2 linked regions of the Homo sapiens genome follow. The protein of the gene in region 1 purifies or fractionates together with the protein of each later gene. This does not show direct contact. Each region holds a gene or a part of one and is shown on either strand. Other genes may lie near its edges.

The links.
Region 2: the proteins of TPR (region 1) and NUP205 purify together in Homo sapiens (affinity purification with western blotting; 2 studies listed by BioGRID, with this or other methods). This does not show direct contact.

Annotation. Positions count from the first base shown.
Region 1 is NC_000001.11:186,351,254-186,360,149, reverse strand, and holds part of TPR (nucleoprotein TPR), read left to right. Parts: intron 1-153; coding exon 154-351; intron 352-1,499; coding exon 1,500-1,607; intron 1,608-2,526; coding exon 2,527-2,753; intron 2,754-3,700; coding exon 3,701-3,864; intron 3,865-4,381; coding exon 4,382-4,515; intron 4,516-4,591; coding exon 4,592-4,740; intron 4,741-6,299; coding exon 6,300-6,462; intron 6,463-8,039; coding exon 8,040-8,174; intron 8,175-8,679; coding exon 8,680-8,820; intron 8,821-8,896.
Region 2 is NC_000007.14:135,616,642-135,632,997, forward strand, and holds part of NUP205 (nuclear pore complex protein Nup205), read left to right. Parts: intron 1-13; coding exon 14-85; intron 86-448; coding exon 449-606; intron 607-960; coding exon 961-1,041; intron 1,042-1,770; coding exon 1,771-1,962; intron 1,963-2,781; coding exon 2,782-3,049; intron 3,050-3,148; coding exon 3,149-3,247; intron 3,248-6,135; coding exon 6,136-6,284; intron 6,285-8,522; coding exon 8,523-8,714; intron 8,715-9,598; coding exon 9,599-9,720; intron 9,721-11,331; coding exon 11,332-11,470; intron 11,471-13,702; coding exon 13,703-13,829; intron 13,830-16,356. UniProt on the Homo sapiens protein: Plays a role in the nuclear pore complex (NPC) assembly and/or maintenance. May anchor NUP62 and other nucleoporins, but not NUP153 and TPR, to the NPC.

The sequences.
Region 1 (8,896 bases):
GAAAGGCTTTCTTTGGTTCCTAGTGCTGTGTAACTAACATAGTAAACATTGCCATTTTGTGTTAGTGTTAAAGAATGTTTATTATGAAACTAGATCAACTAAATATTTGCGTTGTTATGGTTAGATTTGAAACAACCCTTTGTCTACTTTCAGCTCTATAATGCTTATGTGGAAACTCAGGATCAGTTGCTTTTGGAGAAACTAGAGAACAAAAGAATTAATAAGTACCTAGATGAAATAGTGAAAGAAGTGGAAGCCAAAGCACCAATTTTGAAACGCCAGCGTGAGGAATATGAACGTGCACAGAAAGCTGTAGCAAGTTTATCTGTTAAGCTTGAACAAGCTATGAAGGTTGGTTCCATTCCTAAAATTTAGCCGTGGTAACAATACAAATGAGAAATGATTTACTAGGTATTTTTTTTTCTTAAGGTGATTGAGTCAGAAAAATCTAAATACGATTTTCAATAAACACATTTTGAAACTTATTAAACACTGCTGATCTCAAAACGTCATACCTTTATTTAGCAATTTTTATGTATTTCAATTTTTATATAAAATTGTGAAAGCATTTTAACCTTTTTTTAATGCATTTACTATGTTTTCCTTAGGATTCTCAACTAGAGAATAATAGCCAAATCTCCTAAAACTGCTCTTCAAATTAAAATAATCTCTGTGTAATAAAACTCTCCTATTTGCCATAATCATTCTTTATCAGACAGTTGTAATAGCCTGCCTAGAAATAATAATATTGTTTGACCATAGGTAGAACTCCTTTTTTATACCATTTCACAATTTGGCGTGTCTCTATATGCATTATTTTGTTATTGCTCATTTGCTTATTAGAAGTGTTAATGAAATTCATAAAGATTTTTTCCTTTTAAGAGATACTGATGGAAAAAGAGGTTATACTCTGAATGTTTTGCCTTATGGTACAACTATTAACATTACTGAGGGAAATTGTCAAGATTTCTTGAACAAGTTTTATGGAGGAAATTCAGTTAAATGAATTTATATCTACTCTTCTAAACTGATAAATTGTTTCCCTTTTGTTGGAAAAGAATATAAATATATCCCTATTTCAAAATTAAATCTCTGTTGCTGTTATAATTTAGAAGTCAGTTTAAATCCAAGTACTTTATTATATCAGCTGGTTTTTTTCTTCTTCATCAAGTGAAGTCTAGCAGTCCCGCCTGCCTGAGAATATTGACTTTTTTACCAGCAGTGTAGTTTGCAAGAGAGCCCTTGGATCCAATTAGATCTTCCTTGAATTTTTCTCTCTGTTGAAAGTGAGGGTTTTACCTGAAGCTTGTTATTGTCTGAATGAGAAATAACATATTCAAATTTATACAAAACTTCTTTTTTAGTGGCTACAATATTATGTAGGATTTTATTTAGTGTATAAGTTGATTACTGGTGGTGTTTGAGTATTGTATGTCTTTATTACTTGTATAAATCCTAGAAGGAAGTACAAAATTTTCACTTGAATTTACATTTTAAAGGAGATTCAGCGATTGCAGGAGGACACTGATAAAGCCAACAAGCAATCATCTGTACTTGAGAGAGATAATCGAAGAATGGAAATACAAGTAAAAGATCTTTCACAACAGGTTAGAATTTTTTTGTTTGTTTTCCTACTTTTAAAAACCTGACTGCCCAGTAATCTTTGAATCTGTTTGAAGGTACCTAAGATAGAACTACCATGTATGAAATTCTAATTAATTAGGAATAGTACTCGAGCAGAGTTGCACCCCCATTGTTTCTTTTCATAGCCCCTCCCTTTTTTCAAATGTTTGATAAATTTTTAAATTATACGTGTTGGTTGTAATAAATGAAGAAATAATTCAAAGATAAATAAAAGCTTTCTCCAATTTCTACCCCTCTACCCTCTGAAGTCCCAAAGTGTAGCTAAGTTAACAGACAGTTGTGTATTTTTTTCACATCCTTCTCTGTATGTGTATATACATGAGCATATATAAACATATGTAAGAATTATTTGATTTTACTGAAGTAAGACTGGACTGTATGCATTACTCTGACACTTAACAAGCAAATCAATAAATTAATGTCTCATTCATATATTTTACCCTAATTTGTGTGTGTGTACATCCACGCAATGCACAAATGTAAAAATTTCACATGAATGGCATTATATATATGCTTTTTGTTTAAATGTCTATTTTTCATGCTCTGCCCTATCATATATACAAAAGCACACACAAAAAAATAGATATTTGTGGGTTTTATTTGATCACTGTTTTACAAAACTGGAGCCATGTTTTGGGAATTGTAATTTGGCTACTTTGTAATAAGTAATAGCCTTCAATACATACTTAAAAGTAATTTTATTCTATTAAAATTTGATTGTTTAGATTTTAATATCCAAGGATGCTTTATTTTTAAAGATAATTTGAGGCAGTACAAGTTGAAGGTTTTATAAGTAATGTTTTAATTTGAAAACTTTCATTCTAAACTTGTCCAGAATTGTAACTAATACTATTTTATAACATATTAAAACTTTGTTTTTAGATTAGAGTGCTTTTGATGGAACTTGAAGAAGCAAGGGGTAACCACGTAATTCGTGATGAGGAAGTAAGCTCTGCTGATATAAGTAGTTCATCTGAGGTAATATCACAGCATCTAGTATCTTACAGAAATATTGAAGAGCTTCAACAACAAAATCAACGTCTCTTAGTGGCCCTTAGAGAGCTTGGGGAAACCAGAGAAAGAGAAGAACAAGAAACAACTTCATCCAAGTAAGTAGTCACATACCTCAGCTTGTTGAGCAAACATTTATGAAAACCTCAGCTAGGCTCAGTGTCTCATGCCTGTAATCCCAACGTTTTGGGAGGCCTAAATGGGGTATCATTTGAGCCCAGGAGGTCGAGACCAGCCTGGACGACATAGTGAGACCATGTCTCAAAAAAAAGTAAAAAATTAGCTGGGTGTGGTGGCACATGTCTATAGTCCCAGCTACTCAGGAGACAGGCTGAGGTGGGAGGATCACTTGAGTCCAGGAGTTTGAGGCTGCAGTGAAGCATGATCATGCACCACACTCTAAGTGGGACGACAGGGTAAGACCCTGTTGCCCGCAAAAAAAATCTATGTGTTCCTAACAGTGCTAGATACTTGGGATATAGTGATATAGGGAGGAAAGAATTGAGCAACAATACCAAACAAAAAATTTCTACTCCAAGACCTCAGGTTATGGGTAAGACAGATGTAATAAATAGATAATAAAATAGGCAAGTAGACAATTTGCATTCACTGTGATTAGTGCCTATCTGTGGGATCATAGCGGTAGAGGACTTGTCCTAGATTTCAGGGAGCAGACCGGCTTCATGGAGAACCTGGAGAACCTATGTAAGAATTAGTCAGAGGTTTTTTCAAAATACATGTATAATGTCTTCTAGAAGAGGAAGAATGGCTAAGAAAGCAAGAAGACTAGAGTTTGGAGTGAGTGGAACTGATTTAATTTTTACAAACAAATTTTTCAGATTGCATTGGTAAGTATAAGTACCTGAGTCCTGTGTGGTGGGGATTTAAAAAGTAGTTCATAAAATACTCAGCATGAAAAAAAATAATGAGAGAGACAAAAATGGTATGATGAATGGTAGGCAAAGATGCTTGGTTAATTACAGTAGAAATTACAATCAGTTAACTCTCAGTTCAGTCCTGTGAATTAGGCCGACTTTTTCTACAGAATCACTGAGCTTCAGCTCAAACTTGAGAGTGCCCTTACTGAACTAGAACAACTCCGCAAATCACGACAGCATCAAATGCAGCTTGTTGATTCCATAGTTCGTCAGCGTGATATGTACCGTATTTTATTGTCACAAACAACAGGAGTTGCCATTCCATTACATGGTAGGTTTTTATAAAGTTATTTTAAGGAATAATTTAGAAATGTATATTAAGGGATTAATTTTGCAACATAAGCAATAGCCACTCTAATGATGGTAGCTTCAAATTTGACTACCATATATAATTGCTTATAACATCCCATCAACTGTAAAACATACCATTATTTTATGTATTGCTAAAAAGAAATGCTTTCTATTGTTGAAAAAGGTGCATTTCAGAATCAATGAATTACAGTATTTATTTTGGTTATGTTTTAATGACCAAAACAGATATGTTTTAATAAAACATAAATATGGATTATGTTTTAACCCATAAATACTGAATTATCTCTAATAACCATCAAAAAATCTTAATACATTGTTTAGTAGATTCCTTATTTAAAAACTCCTATAATCTTATTGTTTCATTTCAATAAGTTTAGCTTGTTTATTTGATAATAGTGTATTTGCAAAGAAGCATTAGATTAAAGCTGATTTATGAAAGCCAACAAAGCATTTTATTAGTCTTTACTTTCCTGAAGCTTCAAGCTTAGATGATGTTTCTCTTGCATCAACTCCAAAACGTCCAAGTACATCACAGACTGTTTCCACTCCTGCTCCAGTACCTGTTATTGAATCAACAGAGGCTATAGAGGCTAAGGCTGCCCTTAAACAGGTAAAGATCACACCTTTGTCCTGGGTTAGGTTTTTAGAGAACACAGTGTTACCTTCTCATAATCTCCAATATTTAGTTGCAGGAAATTTTTGAGAACTACAAAAAAGAAAAAGCAGAAAATGAAAAAATACAAAATGAGCAGCTTGAGAAACTTCAAGAACAAGTTACAGATTTGCGATCACAAAATACCAAAATTTCTACCCAGCTAGATTTTGCTTCTAAACGGTAAGTTTTCTTTTGTTTCAAATTAATTAAGTCTAAATGTTATACTTTACAATTCAAATCATTTAAATTCAAGAGCTAATTTGCAATAGTGTTGCTTTTTTTGTGAACTGTGTTCCAGAATGAGAACCTCTGGTAGTTCATTTTTTTCATATTGATTAATGATTCTCTAGGCAGTGCTAAGGGTTTAGCTTGTTTGATAAGTTGAAGCCAGGCGCAGCAGCTCACGCCTGTAATCCCAGCACTTTGGGAAGCCGAGGCAGGTGGGTCATTTGAGGGCAGGAATTCAAGACCAGCCTGGCCACCATGGTGAAACCCCATCTCTACTAAAAATACAAAAATTAGCTGAGCGGCAGTGTTGCATGCTTGTAATCCCAGCTACTCAGGAGGCTAAGGCAGGAGAATCACTTGAGCCCAGGAGGCAGTGGTTGCGGTGAGCCAAGATTGGGGCCACTGCACTCCAGTCTGGGCAAGAGAGTGAGATTCTGTCTCAAAAAAATAAAATAAAATAAAAATAAGTTGAAGTTCATGTGAGGAATGTTGGTAGTTTACCTTCCTAAGATTAAAGGACTTGTTTCGGTAGGACTTAATTCTTTTAAAAATGCACCAGATGATGAGAGAAATGAGAGCAAATTTTATTCCACCTTTTCTATTCTAGGTAGAAGAGAAGCAAGTGCTATGTAGTTTTAGGAGAATTAATTTTCTTGGTCACATCCAAAGAAATAATAAATATTTCATGATTATTTGTTATTAAATTCATTGAATGCTTGTTAGTTTAGTTTGTTAGGACAATATTTATTTTTATATAGTACATGATAAAACTGTTTCTGTTTTATAGCAGGCAGGATATATTGCAGGCAGTTACCCCTATACATCTAATAGTTCAGCAACCCCAATTAAAGCACTTCTTTTTTCTCTGTTGATACCTCTAGCCAGCCATTATGTCAGCTTTCAAGCACATAAGAAAATAAAACTGAGGATTATAGAAGAAAAAAGGATTAGCAAAAATCCATCACTAACCCTGTATAATAACTTAATTTGTATACTGCATTGTAGTGGGTGTCTGGTGTTATCAATATTGCATTGTCATTACTTTAAATATAATTGATTTTTTAAAAATAAGATTAAAAAGTTACTTAGCATGAAATACTTTGCTTACTTAGAACTTGAACCACTACATTTGGAATTGGGAAAAAAGAATGAAGGTTTTACCTTATTACACAAGCCACTTCTTCATAAATCATAAAATTAACCCCTTTCCCATTTAGAAAAAAAAAAGTGCAGCTTGCTGCCAGCGCTCATTTAATTTTACATAAGCATGCTGTTTGAGGTTGAGGCAAATCTGACAGATTTTCAGTGTGAAAATAAAATATAAAAACTGTTCCTGGAGTTATTTCTAAGCAGAATTCAACTTAACAGAAATATGTATGATGTTACATTAGGATTAGAGACAATATTCTCAGGGCATTTGGGGAAATGGGTTAAGCTATTGTGAAATTTCTTCAAGGGATTAAGCTAGGATATCATTTCAGTTACTTGTAGAATTACTTTTTTCATACCAGTTATGAAATGCTGCAAGATAATGTTGAAGGATATCGTCGAGAAATAACATCACTTCATGAGAGAAATCAGAAACTCACTGCCACAACTCAAAAGCAAGAACAGATTATCAATACGATGACTCAAGATTTGAGAGGAGCAAATGAGAAGCTAGCTGTCGCAGAAGTGAGTCCAATATCCCTTGTCCAACTTGCATTATAAGTTGCATTTGACATTTCTTTAGTTTTTACTTTGAATTTTACTCACTGATAGGACTTAGGTATTTAAGAAGTTTGGAGGTTACACCAAGTAATTAATACATAGTTTGCAAATAGCCAGTGTGCGTTAGTGGGGTGATTGTTTCTATTAAGATAGAAGAGGGAAAGGAATTTGTTTTTCTGCTGGGCTAAGATATACTCGCAAGTCTTGCATTTCAAAATAAATTTGTAGGTCAGTGTTTGGTTCTAACAAAGACGTTTTTTTTTTTGGTTTTTTTTTTCTTGAGACAGAGTCTCACTCTGTCGCCCAGGCTGGAGTGCAGTGGCACGATCTTGGCTCACTGCAAGCTCCGCCTCCCGGGTTTACGCCATTCTCCTGCCTCAACCTCCTGAGTAGCTGGGACTACAGGTGCCCGCCACCACACCTGGCTAATGTTTTGTATTTTTAGTAGAGATGGGGTTTCACTGTGTTAGCCAGGATGGTCTCGATCTACTGACCTCGTGATTTGCCCGCCTTAGCCTCCCAAAGTGCTGGGATTACAGGCATGAGCCACAGTGCCTGGCCAGACGAATATGTTATTCATTCTTGCTCATCTGTAATAAAAAGCAATATAAAAATTACATTGCATTGAATTTATATTTCTGAATTTTAACTTGAATATAAATGTCCATTTGAAATTATTACTTTTAACTAAATACTTAGTTTTGTGATGATAAATTTTTTATATAGTTTTCTTTGTTATTCAGTTATCTCTTCTGTCTTTGATCATTACTTGTAAGCTAGGTATAGTTGTCCCCCATTTTACCTGTGTAAAACAGACTCAAGAGCTAATGTATAATTTGCCTATTTTGGGACAGTCATGAGAGATGGGTTGGTTAGGACTTGAACCCATGTCTTATAATGCTCTTATAAGGCTGTATTCTTTATTTTTATCTTGCTCCAACTCCATTGTGAGGAGTGGGCAGCAGCACTTTTTCAAACTGGTAGAGTGAATTTTATCATTGATCATTTATATGAATCTGTGTGTAAATATGAGTACTTGTGTGTAAATATGAGTACTTTGAGCTTTCAAAACACTCTCCCTGGTCCCCTTGAGACTCAGACTCTTGGGGTTGAGGGGAGGGAGAAACTTTAAATAGATCAATCATCACTTTTAAACAGGTACTTTGAAACCGGCTTGGATTCTAAAAGTTACATAATTTAATAGTAGTCAGGTATGAATGATTACAGCAGTCATGCAATTCTGCTTTCTTCTTCTCACATATTAAATTTTTCTTGCTGTTATTTTTTAAACTGTGGATTGTTAGAGCAAGGAACCATAAGTATTTGTAATTGAAAGATTTTTTCATTGATGATCCCCAATAATTTTTGCTTCGTATTTTAGCACATGAAACTGTTTTGTATTTCCTTATACAATGAGGAGATATAGTCCCTAAGAGCATTAAAAAAAAGTAGTGATGTATGAATCATTTTAATTTTATAATCTTAATACACTTGACACCATGTTTTTCAGCATTTTTTATTTCATTTCTACTTATGTTTAGGTAAGAGCAGAAAATTTGAAGAAGGAAAAGGAAATGCTTAAATTGTCTGAAGTTCGTCTTTCTCAGCAAAGAGAGTCTTTGTTAGCTGAACAAAGGGGGCAAAACTTACTGCTAACTAATCTGCAAACAATTCAGGTAACCAAATAAAAAGCCTATGTAGAAAAAATGTATAAAAGTTAAATTTAGATTTTTTTTATCCTCTCAATTTCCTTAATTAGAAAATTTATCCATCACTTTTGTCATCCATTATGATCATTGAATTTTGCAGTTTATTAAGACATTTAAATATTTTAAATAAAATATTGAAAGAGAATTGATTGAAACCATACATTGGTAAGTCCTCAGGTATATTTACAGTGTCCTGTGCAGTTTTACTATTTATAAGATTAATTCTTTGGTTTTTATTTTCTTTAAAACTTTGGGAAATCTGAATGACGATTATAATACATTCCATCTCTTTCCTGTATAATAGATGTTTTAATATAAAAAATACCAGAATACTTTCTTGATAAATACTGTAGATTTTAGCTGCTTCATGTAGAAATGGGTTGTAATATTGTAATTCTTTCTTGCCTTCAATTTTTATTTTTTTGTATTGCCTTTTTCTTAAGCATAACCAAAAATCTTTTCTTTGCTTTAGGGAATACTGGAGCGATCTGAAACAGAAACCAAACAAAGGCTTAGTAGCCAGATAGAAAAACTGGAACATGAGATCTCTCATCTAAAGAAGAAGTTGGAAAATGAGGTGGAACAAAGGCATACACTTACTAGAAATCTAGATGTGAGTCCATCAGAGTTCTGAATTTCTGTAGGGTGTTTATGTTCAGTAATTAATCTGGTGTGTGGACAGTCTGCCA
Region 2 (16,356 bases), on another chromosome or scaffold:
GATATTCCAACAGATGGTGAAGGAGGAATAGAAGATGAAAACAGGTCTGTTTCTGGGTTCCTTCACTTTGACACTGCTACAAAAGGTAATGCCCTTTGAATTTGTAATAAATTTATTTTATAGACATATATTAAAAAAAAAAAAACTTCAAGGGATTATTATGCCTGTGCCTCCAAACTCTGAACTGGTATAGAAAAGTTATATAAAGGATTAATTGCCACCTGAAAATTTTTTTTATAATAGGATTATACAAAAGGAAAGAAAATATTTTTGTTAATGGATGTATCAGAAATAAAATCAAATTTAGATTCCAATACAGTTTTCAGTTTCTTGACTATTTTATGCTCTTTCTGAAAATAGCACTGTCTTTGAAAATCAACTGAATATGATGGCTTGCCTTTCTTTTCAATGTCCCAAGTAAAATCAAATTACTTTTTATTATTTCTAGTACGTCGAAAAATTCTAAATATTCTTGACTCGATTGACTTCAGTCAGGAGATCCCTGAGCCTTTGCAGTTGGATTTTTTTGATCGGGCCCAGATTGAACAAGTTATTGCTAACTGTGAACACAAGAATTTACGGGGACAGACAGTCTGCAATGTCAAGGTGAGGATTGCTTTAAAGTACATATCTGCAGTGTCAAGTGGCTCAGACTTTAAGTCATCAGAAACAAATAGAACCATATAGGTTTTCTTTCTGATAGAGACATTGGTTTAGTAGTTTATAGGAAGGACTGTGATTTTTGTAAAATATCCCTGAAATAAAACTTAATATATCACCTAACTTCTTGAAAAGGGATACTTAATATTTTGGTCTGGAAATTGGACAGTGCTCCTGTTAGATTATATATAAAGGTATCTGACACCTTTCCCTTTAGGGCAGTTTATGGTAATTGCTAGGTGTTACTGTTCTACCAGTGTCTGAAATGTCTTATTTTTCTTTCTTTTCCTAATTATCCAGCTTCTTCATAGGGTTCTTGTAGCTGAAGTAAATGCCCTTCAGGGTATGGCAGCCATAGGACAGAGACCTCTACTAATGGAGGTAAGCTCTATTGAGTATGTGTTCGTTTCAAACTTCTAACTACTTAGGTTGCTGGTGAAAAGACTAAAATAGTATATTGACATGTAGTTTGCTAATTAGTAAGCTGCCTAAAAATTAAACATTTAGGGAGTCTTTCACTTTTGATTTTATAACTTTTATAAACTGAACTATCTGGTATGCCAAAATAAATAACACCTTTTCTGCTAGGCTAGTTAAGGATTTGCAACCTGACCATATTTCGTATTAGACTTCACTTGGTCCCCATCAGTGAGAGAGGAGGGTCATTTGTCATCACAAGTGGAAAGTTACAGATAAGAGGTCAGGTGGGAAGAACCACATGAATGGAGATACAGCCGGCCAGGCCAAAGCAAGAGGCAAAGAAATAAAAGAGATGTCAGAGAAACATGCCATTGAACTTGGAGTTTAGATAATTCTAGTGCTCTAGAGTAAGCAAGTATAAGTAGACAGGTACAAGGAGAAAGAAGATGGTGTCAAAAAATACATATTTATCTATGCCACTTCTGTCCCCTACCTTTCATGCACATACACACACATACACACCTTATATGTTAATATTTTTTATAGCCCTGGCTACTGAAATAATATGAAAAGATACCTGCTTCCTGGCATGCATGTAGTAGGTTTCCAAATAAATATTTTCTGAGTAACTGACAGATAACTGATCTTATTTGCCTGTTTAACCTTGTGATTCAATTCCTGTGGCTTTAGGAAATCAGCACTGTACTTCAGTATGTGGTAGGAAGAAATAAATTGCTGCAGTGTCTTCATGCAAAACGTCATGCTCTGGAGTCGTGGAGGCAACTAGTAGAAATTATACTGACAGCTTGTCCCCAGGACCTCATTCAGGCAGAGGATCGACAACTGATTATTCGTGATATTTTACAAGATGTGCATGATAAGGTGACGTACTTCCTAAAATACTTTATACTGCTGAACGAATGTATCATTTAAACAAATATATTTTGGCATCCTAATTGTTTTCCATTTTCGATTGGGAGTAAAATAGAATTGTGCAATACCAACGTTAAGACTTTCCTTGAGAAAGGGATTAATTCTGTACAGTAGTGGCTCTCAACCAGAGTGTGTGTCTGAGTTATCTCGGGAGCTTTGTAAAAATTCACATGGACAGAGCCCACCCCAGACCTACTGAATGTAGTGGTGAGACCATTTATGTGAATTTCAAAAAGAAAACCTCCCTAGGGAATTCTGATAGGAATCCCTTCTGGTTAAGAACACCCATTACCTAGCATCATGTTTAAATTTCTCTGTATATATTAGATTCCTTTCTTTCTTTCTTTCTTTCTTGACTAATTTCTGTATTCCATTCTTATATTGTTACCATAGTTGACAAGCTAAATGTATATAAAACTTGTTAATGGGCTGTGTGCAGTGATTCATGCCTGCAATCCCAGAACTTTGAGAGGCCAAGGTGGGAGGATCACTGGAGCCCAGGAGTTTGAGACCAACCTGGGCAACATAGTGAGATTCCATCTCTACGAGCATGATGGTGTGCACCTGTAGTCACAGTTGCGGGAGGCTGAGGTGGGAAGACCTCCTGAGCCCAGGAGGTCAAGGCTGAAGTGAGCTGAGATTATGCTACTGCACTCCAGCCTCGGTGACAGAGCGAGACCCTGTCTTCAAAAAAAAAAAGCTATGAAATTTGTTAATGATTATAGCTGAAAGCAGGATTCTCACTCTAATTTGCCCTTGTCCTTTAAGATACTGGATGATGAAGCTGCGCAAGAGTTAATGCCTGTGGTCGCCGGGGCAGTGTTCACACTGACTGCTCACCTAAGCCAGGCCGTCCTCACTGAACAGAAGGAAACATCAGTCTTGGGACCAGCAGAGGCCCATTACGCTTTTATGCTTGATAGTTGCTTCACCTCACCTCCTCCTGAAGAGAACCCATTAGTGGGTTTTGCTTCTATTGGAGATTCTTCACTTTACATCATATTGAAGAAACTGTTAGACTTCATTTTGAAGACAGGTTTTTTTCATTTAAATTGTCTATAAATTCTATCTTTTGTATTTGTTTTAACTTTAATTGAGAAAAGATTTTCATTTGACATCTTCCTAATCTCCCTAGGTGGTGGATTCCAACGAGTGAGGACTCACTTGTATGGCTCTCTGCTTTATTACTTACAGATTGCCCAGAGACCTGATGAACCAGACACCTTAGAAGCAGGTAGAATGAGATCAATTCCTAATCTTTTCTGGATTGGGAGATGGTTACTTTAAATTGAAAAAAAAAATCACTTCTCCATCTTTTGACTAATCACAACTGTAAAAAATGAGTGTTAGTGTCATTTTTAAAGCATTTACTCAAAAGTTGAGGAAGAATGTTTAGTTTTTAAGAATTATGAAGTAGTACATGAGTACTACTTTTAAGATAACCTTCAAATAATACTTTAGCTTTATATACTTCTGTAACTCCCTCACTTGCCTCAAGTCCGACTGAACAGTGTGCTCTACATAGAATGGTCCAATGTCTTTCTTTCCTTTGTGCTACATCAGAGTACTTATCTAGTTGATTCTTTTAAAATATCTCGGCCTGGCATGGTGGCTCACGCCTGTAATCCTAGCACTTTGGGAGGCCGAGGCCTGTGGATCACCTGAGGTCAGGAGTTCGAGACCAGCTTGGCCAATATGGTGAAACCCCATCTCTACTAAAAATCAGAAAATTAGCAGCCATGGTGGCAGGCATCTGTAATCCCAGCTACTCAGGAGGCTGAAGCAGGAGAATCGCTTGAACCCAGGAGGCAGAGGTTTCCCAGATTGCGCCACTGCCCTCCAGCCTGGGCAACAAGAGTGAAACTCTGTCTCAAAAAGAAACACAAAAGTCTTTGTTATTCCATGATATGGATGAAACACTTATCTGCCATTTTCCTTATTCACAGGCATTTCAATTGTTTCTAAATTTTTATTACAAAAATGCTACATCAACTTTTTTTATATGCCTATATTTCTCAAAAAGGATACTGCTTAATGGTGGAATTTCCATGTGTAAAAGTATGTACTTTTATTTTAAAAAGATTCAAATGAATGACCTTCTCCAGTATAAACTCATCAATAGTATACATGTATCTTTTTGTACTAGTGAGGTTTTGTTTGGATAAATTCCAAGAAGTGGAATTTCTTGGTCAAAAGTTAGGCACATTTAAAATATTGCTAAATGCTGCTTTCTAAAAAGTTAGCATTTTTAATTGAAACTAATCTTAAGACATGAAAATGTTATTAAGTGTTCAACACATCAGTATATAATGCTTTATATACTTTATAGACATTTGATGTTCAATCAAGTTATTCAGAGTTATTCTGCCATTTGTTAAGAAGTTGTCAGAGCACCTTCTGATAATGGATTTTCTTTGGGCTCTTCACCTTTGTGAGTGTTATTTTGTATACACTGTTAAAAACCACTGTGTACGTAAGGTTGACTTGATCTCATTATCCTTATGGTGGTTGTATTTTATGCCATACATAGTACCCTATAAGGTAGTAATAGCCAAATGGTAGATTTATAGGCATGTAGCACCCACATAAATAATGCATGAGAATATTTGTAAGATGAGGAAAAATAACAGAATAGTTTAGAGAAGTTTTTTAAGCAAACATGAGCTTCTTTTAAGAAAAGAGATAGTAATGGGATTTCTCCACTCAGCACCTCCCACATTTTTCTTTTGTGTGTGTGTTTTTCTTAACATTCCATTTAGTTGAATTGGCCAAGTCACCACTTAACCACTAGGTGGGGCTCTACAATAGGCTTTTTATAAGAAGTCATCAAGATGCCAATTTAAAAACTGCTGCTATGTAGCAGTTGGAAAAAATGAGATTAGTTTCCAATACAAGTTATTGCTTTATTTAATGTACTTGTGAAATTTTTAAAGAGTCTCACATAAGAGTATGTTTGTGGGTCTTACATAAAATGTATGATCATACTGTTCCTAATCATTGTATAATGGTTGTGCTTTTATTTTTATAATAGGTGTGCTTTTATTTTTAATAAGTATTTCAACTAAAAAAAAGAATAAAAATATCTGATTTTTTTGGAGGCAAATTTTTGTCTACATTGTACCTGATCCTTTCTAGCTAAATTTTCTTTTCTTTTCTTTTGTTTTTTGAGACAGAGCTTCACTCTGTAGCCCAAGCTGGAGTACAGCGGTGCGATCTCAGCTCACTGCAACCTCCACCTCCTGGGTTCAAGTGATTCTCCTGCCTCAGCCTCCCCAGTAACTGGGATTATAGGTGTGCACCACCACGCCCCACTAATTTTTTGTATTTTTAGTAGAGACGGGGTTTCACCATGTTGGCCAGGCTGGTTTTGAACTCCTGTCCTCAAGTGATCCACCGCCTCGGCCTCCCAAAGTGCTAGGATTACAGGTGTGAGCCACCACGCCTGGCAATTTTAAAAGATCTCAATAAAAGATAAAAGATTGATTAGCGGCTGGGCACGGTGGCTCACACCTGTAATCCCAGCACTTTGGGAGGCCAAGGCAGGCAGATCACGAGGTCAGGAGATCAAGACCATCCTGGCCAACATGATGAAACCCCATCTGTACTAAAAATACAAAAATTAGCTGGGCATGGTGGCATGCACCTGTAGTCCCAGCTACTGGGGAGGCTGAGGCAGGAGAATCGCTTGAACCTGGGAGGTGGAGGCTGCAGTGAGCCAAGATCATGCCACTGCACTCCAGCCTGGAGACAGAGCCAGGCTCTGTCTCAAAAAAAAAAAGAAGGAAAAAAAAAAAGACTGATGAGCAGGATAAATACAGGACGTTGGTTCTCATGGAGTCTTGTAATTCATTTTGATCTCTTTCAGAATGATTTATCCTTTTCCAGGTACAATTATTATCTTAGTGTTATGAAACATGCATGAAATAGGTGCATTGTGTTATTAGAGTTAACCTGCTTGGACCCACCGGTCAGTGGGCCTTTGTGTACAAGCAGTGATGGAAGGATTTTTTTGTTGCGTTTTTTTTTTTTCTTCCTTAGCTCATACCTAGCATGTGAGGTATAATTACTCAGTTATTACACTGCTTTTTACTGGAGTGTTTTTTTCTGTTTTAATCCTTTTAGCCAAGAAAACCATGTGGGAAAGGCTGACAGCCCCTGAAGATGTATTTAGCAAATTACAGCGAGAAAACATAGCCATTATTGAAAGTTATGGCGCCGCCCTCATGGAAGTGGTCTGTCGAGATGCTTGTGATGGTCATGAGATTGGAAGGGTAAAGCAACTCTTATTTAGTATTATAATTGAATAAGTATTTTGACTTATTAAGGTATAAACTGATTCACGGCTGGGTGTGGTGCCTCATGCCTGTAATCTCAGTGCTTTCGAAGGCCAAGGTGGGTGGATTTCTTGAGTATAGGAGTTTGAGACTAGCCTGGGCAACATGGTGAAACCCCGTCTCTACAAAAAATACAAAAAATTAGCCAGCCATGGTGGCATGCACCTGTAGTCCCAGTTACTTGGGAGGCTGAGGTGGGAAAATTGCATGAGCCCAGGAGGCAGAGGTTGCTTGCGGTGAGCTGTGATCGAGGCACTTCACTCCAGCCTGGGCTGCAGAGTGAGACCCTGCTGCAAAAAATAAAATAAAATAAATTGATTCAACTTTTAATAATGTATGGTACATATTAAGAATCATTTTTTATAATATACTGTATTTTCTTATTTGCTATAATTTGAGACTTCTGTTTTATTTATTCATATGTTGTGTTTAATTTTGTTAGAATCTTAATTCAGAATTGCCTTTCAGAATTATCTTCTTGCTAATTTTGAGGTTGACTGGTAGAAACAACAGAAACGCTGCTTAATAAAGATCTTTGGTTAAGAGAATGCTGAATAAATTGCCTTGTACTGAATAGATCTTTGTCTGCCTAATTGCTTTGTGGAGAATTTGTATTTATATTTCTTGTACAGTATGGTGGCACACTGGTAATGATGCAGTGAGAAGATAACTTCTTCTTAATGGAAAATTATGTAGCAAAATTATGTAGCAATTAAATCATGTTTTTGAAGACCATAGGAAATAGGATTTTAAAAAATAAACTGGCATAACCTTTTAGTTACGTTTCTTTGTTTGTTTGTTTGTTTGTTTTTGAGATGGAGTCTCGCTCTGTCGCCCCGGCTAGAGTGTAGTGGCGCAATCTCGGCTCACTGCAAGCTCCGCCTCCCGAGTTCACGCCATTCTCCTGCCTCAGCCTCCCAAGTAGCTGGAACTACAGGCGCCCGCCACTACGCCTGGCTAATTTTTTGTAGTTTTAGTAGAGACGGGGTTTCACCATGTTAGCCAGGATGGTCTCGATCTCCTGACCTCGTGATCCTCCCGCCTCGGCCTCCCAAAGTGCTGGGGTTACAGGCATGAGCCACCACACCCGGCCACCTTTTAAGTTATGTTTTAAAAATTTTAAAATATTTGTATGCATAGAAAAAATACTGGTAGGAGACAGACCAAAATGGATGAACTGTATTTATCAGATTGTGTAGTTATTACTTTTTTTTTCTTTTTTCTTTTTATTGAGACAGAGTCTTGCTCTGTTGCCCAGACTAGAGTGCAGTGGCATGATCTCGGCTCACTGCAACCTCTGCCTCCCAGGTTCAAGCAATTCTCCTGCCTCAGCCTCCCGAGTAGCTGGGATTACAGGCATGCACCACCATGCTGGGGTAATTTTTATTTTTATTTTTATTTTTTTTGAGACAGAGTCTCGCTTTGTCACCCAGGCTGGAGTGCAGTGGCACGATCTCGGCTCACTGCAACCTCTGCCTCCCAGGTTCAAGTGATTCTTTGCCTCAGCCTTCCGAGTAGCTCAGATTACAGGTGCCCACCACCACGCCCAGCTAATTTTTTTTGTATTTGTAGTAGAGATGGAGTTTCACCATCCTGGCCAGGTTGGTCTTGAACTCCTGACCTCGTGATCCACCCGCCTTGGCCTCCCAAAATGCTGGGATTACAGGCGTGAGCCACCGCTCCCGGCCTAATTTTTTTAATGGCCAGGCTTGTCTCGGATTCCTGACAAGTGCTCCACCTGCCTCTGCCTCCCTAAGTGTTGGGATACAGGGGTGAGCCACTGTGCCCAACCTAGTTATTATTTTTCTGTGTTTTCTGTAATGAGCATTATAAAACTTCACAGTGAGAAAAAACAGCTGTTAAAAAAATTTCTTTTCTCTAACAAGCAATGTTAGAGTCTACTAAAATACATCTAATGCCACTAGTTTAACGTGTTAGGTTTTGTTTTGGAAATACATCTTTACCTGAGAGCTTTCCTTTATTGATAAATTGAGGTTCTGGAGCCATAGTTTTTAACTTCTCAAAAAAAAATAAAAAGGAAATTTTGTTGCAAGTAACATTCTCTTTATGAAAAACATTCTTCATATTTCATATCTGATGTCAGATAAATTCAGTTACTGTTGTTGATTTTGGTAGCATCTACATGTTTTGGACTTTAATTTATTCTTCCTTCAGATGCTGGCCCTGGCTCTACTTGATAGAATTGTCTCCGTGGATAAACAGCAGCAGTGGCTTTTGTATCTTTCTAACAGTGGCTACTTGAAGGTCCTCGTAGACAGCTTGGTAGAAGATGACCGTACTTTGCAGAGCTTACTCACCCCACAGCCTCCCCTTTTAAAAGCACTTTATACTTATGAATCTAAAATGGTAAGGCTTTCTAGACATTTGATGTTAGATCAAGAAGTCGTTTTCTCTTGGCTATAGATGTATTAAAGAAAATTAATGTGGCATACATTCTGAATATTTCTATCATAAGCTGGAATCCTTTTTTAAGGAGTTTTAAACTTTGGAATCTTCCTAGTGTGCAAAAGATGAGTGAAATGATCCTCAAAGGGATAGCTGGATAATGGGACTGCTGCTTCCCTCACTCACTCAGGTTGCTCATGATGGCAATATGACAGCCAGTGCTCCGTGAGGACAGAGCAAAATTGTCCTCTCACAATACAATTTAGACTATAGTAGTTGCCTATTGAAAATTTCCATGTAGATATGCTAGTTCTATTCTAAACACAGCATTTTCAATATAGTATATAATTCATTGTTTCTTTGCCTGCAAATCTGTTTTAATTTCTTTTTCCTCCTAGTTAAAAGGATCACAAATGTTACGATAATAGAAGCACTGAAATTTTAGATTCTTCATTTACTCCTTTTTCCTCCTTCATTTATTTAACAGGTATTTATTAAATACCTGCAAAACGGCAGGCATGGCACTAGGTACTAGAGACACAGCTGTTAGCAAAACAGACAAAATTCCTTGCCCTCCATGGGCCCACATGATAATAACAGGACCCACACTGTAAACGAATACTTGAATCATGCAAGCTACTGTCTGTGGGCGCTTTAGATATGTTGAACACTGAGTCCTCATGAAAATCCTAGGAAGAAAGCGGTATAATGTAACCTGTCACTAGCCCAGATTTCTCTTCAGTGATAACTAAGGATGAGAAATTTGCCATCAAAGTGTTGCACTTTTCTCTGAGGCCCTTGGACATGATTTCAGCACTGATGATTTTTCTCTTGTAACTCCTCAGGCATTTCTCACAAGAGTGGCAAAGATACAGCAGGGTGCATTAGAGCTGCTAAGATCAGGGGTGATTGTGAGACTAGCTCAATGCCAAGTCTATGACATGCGCCCAGAAACGGACCCGCAGAGGTAAGTGTCTGTATAGATTAATTTGGTTAAACTCCCAGTAAAGGATTATTAAGGGAAGAAAAAATTCCAAACATAATTTTGCCGCTTAGCAATTCTCTTTCATCTTGGTGTGGGTTTTTTTGGTCATACTGTGCCCCTGTCATTTACTAATAAATGGAAGTTGCTACTAGGGAAAAAGTAGGTAGGAGTGGGAGAGAATTTAGTAAATGTGTACTTGCCCAATGTTATTATTATGTTCAATTGAAATACTTGTTTGCAGTTACACTATCTTTTAAAGAGTTGTAGTAAAATTATAATTTGTTATGGATTTCCTGTTCCGGATGATTTGAATAGAATTTCAGATTATATATATATTTTTTCTGATTTCAATATTTTGCTTACTGCTTGCTAATTCAAAAGCTTCAAATGGAATTGTTTTCAAGTTTCAAGCTTTTCAGCTGATTTCTTAGTTTCACATTCGATTTGAATGTGGAAAATTTGATTTGATTTTCTTTTTTGTTTACATGACTGCAGCATTGTTAGGTAGATAGCATACCTTCCTAGAAGTAAATAATACTTAGTTTGAGTTTAGTAATTGTTTTAAAAGGATCTATTAGCAACTTGAATGTTTGGATTTTTAAGGCTTAACTACAGAACTGTTTTACCTCCAGGGAAAAACATTTATTTTAGTATTGCGGTCTAAAGTTTCAAACATGAGAGTTATTACTTTCACCTTAGGTAAAGTGGGTTGAGTTAAATACTCTTTAGTTCATGGCATGCTATTATCACTTGTCTGTGCAAAGCCTGTCTCTTATTTTCTTATTCTGCTTTCGTTCCCCCTCAATAGGCAGCCATTTTTTTGGTCTAAAAATTTAAATATAAACATTAACAATAAATATTAGCTTATTAATACGATGTTCTGAGACCTACTCTGAAAGGTTAAGTGATTTTACAGCCTCATTTTGACTCTTAAATCTTGTTTTATTTTTATACAGATTGAGCTTCTCTAATCTGAAAATCTGAAATCTGCAGTGCTGCTAAATCTCAAACTTTCTGAGTGCCAATATGATGCTCAAAGGAAATGCCCATTGGAGCAATTTGGATTTTGGATTTTCAGATTAGAGGTGCTCAACCAGTAAGTATGTATAATGCAGATATTTCAAAATCCAAAAAAATCTGCAACACTGCTGGTACCAAGCATTTTGGGTAAGTGGTACTCACCCTATACAATGGGCAGCATAGTGGATTTTTGGCTTGGGTAGAGGAGAGAGAATTTTAGGGAAAGTAGCTTTTTAAATCTGTTTCTTACTTAACAGCCTATATGGCCCAAGGAAGCTTTAGAGAAGAATAAAAATGTTTTGGAAGTTTCAAGCATTATCTTGTCAAATTACATAGGTTTTCCTCGATAAGATTTTTCAGAATTCAAATAACTGTTTTTACTAACTAAGCTATGAGTTTAGGAAGACACATCTTTCTCTGGACCGCGGATGTATATATGGGATGCAGAGTACTCACTAGTTGATTCACATCTTAATCAGCCGGCTCTGATTTATTTGCCATATCAGTGTTAAGGAATTGCCGAGAGTATACCTTAATTCTTGGAATGTTTTCTCCTTGTTTGGTTGAAATAAGCATGTTTGGCATGAGAGACCCTCCAATGTTCATCCCTACCCCAGTGGATCGCTACCGCCAGATTCTCCTCCCAGCTCTCCAGCTGTGCCAGGTCATCCTCACATCTAGTATGGCCCAGCACTTGCAGGCAGCAGGGCAGGTAAGGTGAACCCTTTGTTTAGATATTGTCTAGAGCAAAATCCTCATTTTACAAGTACAGAAACCTTACACACATAGAATGCTTAAGTGAATTTACGTTAGTCCTAATGTTTGTGGCAGAGCAGGGTAGAGAAAAGAGGCCCCTGTACTTTGTTCTTAACTACATTGGTCCATTTTTATACTGTTGTTTGAATGAAACACTGTAGCTAATTAATAGAATCATAAGACAGGAAACAAGAGATTGAAATTTGTTCTTCTATAAAAGAAAGCAGTTATTGTGATAGGAGTAAGCTGGCTTCTAAAGTGTAATTTAACCAGGTATCTATTGAGAGAGGGCTATGCTAGGCCTTGCAGGCTGGGCATGGTGGCTCACGCCTGTAATCCCAGCACTTCGGGAGACTGACAGATGATAATACTGCATTTATATATGATAGAGAATGAAATAATTTAAATGAGTGATTTTGCTGTCAAAATTTTTTTAAATACCAGAAATTAGTTTTATTTTGATTACTTTTCAGTGAAACACTAACATTCCAACACACATTTTTTTAAAAATTAATATTATATGTAATTTAGCCTTTCACTGATTGATTAGGCTTATCATGAATCTACAACCTTGTATTGCTTTATTGTATTTTGGAACTGTGTCCTAAAACACTTTGATTTCTGGTAATTTTTTCTGCTTTCTCTACCATCAGGCCTTAGGCCATCTCACCAAGGTAGATGCTGCTGTTCTAAAGTGGCACCTTATTTTATATCATAGCAATCTGGGTTGACGTCCTACTTCTTTTAGGCCTATGTGGTCTTCAAGTTAGTACTTTTTAAAACTCAGAGACTTTGCCTTTCTTCCCCTAGATTGAGATTAAGATTTTTTAGTAGAAGTGGGACATTATGATATAAGACACTGGTTCCCTAACACCAATCTTGTATTGACTGAAGCAGAATCACCTGAGGAGCCTCTTAGAGAAGCACAGATGACTGAGTTCTGTGACCAGACATTATAAGCTTAGGCTAGGAATCTTTATTAAAAAACAAAAATGATCACAATTCTGAGTGATTCACATCCTTGGCTTGTTTTGGCATATAGTCTGCCTTTAAAATGTTTGTAAGCTAGTTGAGATATTCCTAAGTGAAAATACTGAAAGAGGACTCCATGAGTGTACATTATAAAATGCCAAAGTGGAAGGGTAGAGCTGGGAGGTCAGGATTTATATCTCCTTTTTTTAACCGCATCAAAAGGAGAGTTATGGCCAGGTGTGGTGGCCCATGCCTGTAATCCCAGCACTTTGGGAAGCCAAGGTGGGAGGATCACTTTAGCCAGGAGTTTGAGCCCAGCCTGGGCAACATAGTGAGACCCTATCTCTCTCTCTCTCTCTCTCTCTCTCTCTCTCTCTCTCTCTGTCTCTCTCTCTGTCTCTCTTTTTTTTTTTTTTTGAGACAGAGTCTCACTTCGTCACCCAGGCTGGAGTGCAGTGGCACGATTCCAGCTCACTGCAACCTCCACCTCCCAGGTTCAAGTGATTCTTGTGCCTCAGCCTCCTGAGCAGCTGGAATTACAGGTGTGCACCACTGCATCTGACTAATTTTTGTATTTTTAGTAGAGATGGCATTTCACCATGTTGGCCAGGCTGGTCTCAAACTCCTGACCTCAGGTGATACCCGCCTCAGCCTCCCAAAGTGCTGGGATTACAGGCGTGAGCCACCATGCCTGGTTCCTATCTCTATTATAATAAAAATGAATTTTTTTAAAAAAAGAATTAGACAAAAGCTTTTATGTGATTTCCCCATGTCATGCTAGTTACTGTTTCATAGAACAGCTTCTTGAATTCACTAGTCATTTTTATACCCATTTATATTACATTCTTACTCTAGTTCATTTGGCCAAACAATAAAGAAAATAGGGGTCAGATAATAGTTTTCATACAGTAGTTCTGAGTTATATTCTTCTACAGTAGTCTCCAAATGTATTAACTTATAAGCTTTAAAATAATCCTTTAGTCTTGTGAATTTTAAATGTTTACTTCCTGAAGAGATAAATATGTGAGTGCAGAAAACAATTGCTTATCTGTTACTCATCCTCACTTATTGTGAGGCTGAGTATTGTATTACTGAGTATTATGGTAAAGTTGAAGGTTACTTCCTTCAACATTATTTATAAAATGAATTATGCATTTATATATAATTTTCTACTTCTACCTGTTTTTTCTATTCCTCTTCCTTTTCAATGGCTTAGGTATTGCAGTTTCTTATTTCACATTCTGATACCATACAAGCAATTCTGCGCTGTCAGGATGTTAGTGCTGGGTCTTTGCAGGAATTGGCTCTGCTGACAGGAATTATAAGTAAAGCAGCACTTCCTGGTGAGTTGATTATGTTGAAAGGATTTTTAATAATTCTTTAAAGACTGACATAAATTAATAGAATGAGTTTTTTTGTTACTTTGCAGCTATATATGACTTATTTGAAATTGGTACTGCTAACAGAGCCTTTATTTATGTAATAAGTTTATGTTTATAAAATGATACATGCTTGGCTGGGTGTGGTGGCTCATGCCTGTGATCTCATCACTTTGAAAGGCTGAGGCAGGATGATTGCTTGAGGCCAAGGGTTCAAGACCAGCCTGGGCAACATAGAGACACCCTGTCTCTACCAAAAAATTTTAAAAATTAGCTGGGTGTTGGGGCATTCACCTGTGGTCCTGGCTACTTGGGAGGTTGAGGTAGGAGGATTACTTGAGTTGGGAAGGTTGAGACTGCAGTCAGCCAAGATTATGCCACTGCAATCCAGTCTGGGCAACAGAACAAGACTCCGTCTCTGTTTTGTTTTGTTTTTTTTTTTTAAGATATAGGCTTATTATAAAAATATTCAAAAGGAGATAACTAACACTCAAAATCTCACCACCTAGAAATTACCAAATGTTGACATTTGATAAATTTTCAAACATTGCTTTATGTGTACGTACATATGAGAAAGGGAGGGGGAGAGAGAGAAAGAAAGCAACAGAGACATACAGAGGCAACTAATGAGAATAGGATGACCTTTTACATGCTGTTTTAAAAAACAAATATTTAATTTTACATGAATTTATTTATTTTTTTATTATACTTTAAGCTCTAGGGTACATGTGCACAACATTCAGGTTTGTTACATAGGTATACATGTGAATTTTACATGAACACAGACAAAAATCTAATTGAAGAGAAACGAAAGGAATTGCCAAATTCCAGACAAATGTTTCTTTACTACTAGAGTATGTCACCTTTTAAAAGATCACTGCGAGTAAGGAAAAACATTATGAAACATTATTAAGATACTTTGGTTACTTTCCCCCCTTATAATTTCTTTACTACATGTAAATTTTGAATCAGTTAACTCCCTGATGGGAAAGATGAAATGATGACTTCTTTTACACTTCCTCTTCCACCCTCAGATGATGTTTGCTTATATCATTTTAACCTTGTCAGGTTTTGTAACATTTACATCTGTTATGCAACCATAATATCCTCAGCTACTTAGTTTTAGTTGTATATTTACATGGATTCACTGCAAAACACCAGTTGTGTTCCCCACCATGGCGTCACCATTCACGAGTTCTTTCTTTTGATTTATCTCTTGGTATTTTTTTTTTTCTTTCTTTCTTTCTTTCTTTTTTTTTTTGAGACGGAGTCTTGCTCTGTCGCCCAGGCTAGAGTGCAGTGGCGCGATCTCGGCTCACTGCAAGCTCCGCCTCCCCGATTCACGCCATTCTCCTGCCTCAGCCTCCCGAGCAGCTGGGACTACAGGCGCCCGCCACCACGCCTGGCTAATTTTTTGTATTTTTAGTAGAGACGGGGTTTCACCGTGTTAGCCAGGTCTTGATCTCCTGACCTTGTAATCTGCCCGCCTCGGCCTCCCAAAGTGCTGGGATTGCAGGCTTGAGCCACCGCGCCCGGCCTATCTCTTGGTATTTTTAATTTGTACTGAGGTTCCTTCCCTCAAGAAAAAGCATGCTGTCTCATATTCCTGAAATTCTCTAAGAATGTCTGAAGGTTGTCTTTGTTCTTTAATGACAGGACGGCCGATTATGATTTTCTTTTGCTTAGAATATGTAATATAAATGATAGTAGCTGGCATTTATTAAGCATGTATGTGCCAGGTACTGTTTTAAATACTTGACATGTTAATTGATTGGAAGACACAGCAGTCTTATGAGGTAGAACTGTCATTATCCACATTTTACAGCTGAGGAGGCTGAGGCACAGGGAGGTTAACTTGTCCAAAGTCACACAGATAACACTGCATAGTATAGAGTTTCCCAGGCAGTACGTCTTTTGAATCTATATATGTAACTACGAGGCTACACTACCTCCATTTTTATGTTGCTTTGGAGATGTCTGAGGCAACCTCTGAATCCACCCTATAATCCCCAATAATTTTTTTTGTCTGGGCTGTCTCGGTGGCTGAGCCCTCTGGGTTGAGAGACGTTGAGAGTTGGCCAGGGCTGAGTACAGTGCCAGCTGAGTTACTTGGAGCCTGTGCTTCTTCCAAGGAGATCCCAGGGTCTATTCCACCCAGCCTGTGGTGTGCTTCGTTCACCAGTTCATTCCAGTGTCCTAAGATGATACCAAGTCAGGCCACCCTTCTTGTCTCTACTAAGGTCCTGTAGTGTTGTGGGGTGGAACTCCTAATGGTTTTTCCTTTGATTTTTTCCAGGACTTAACTAATTACTCTCAATGTACTTCTGTAAATTGCAGGGTCTCCATGAGATTTTTTCTCATCAGCACATACAGCTCCTGCCCATCCTTTTTAATTGACTGCCTGGTTTTCCAGTTGTGAGATAGTTAACCAGACCCTTGTTTTATTTGTTTGTTTGTTTTTGTTTTTATTTTTGGGGGGACAGGGTCTCAC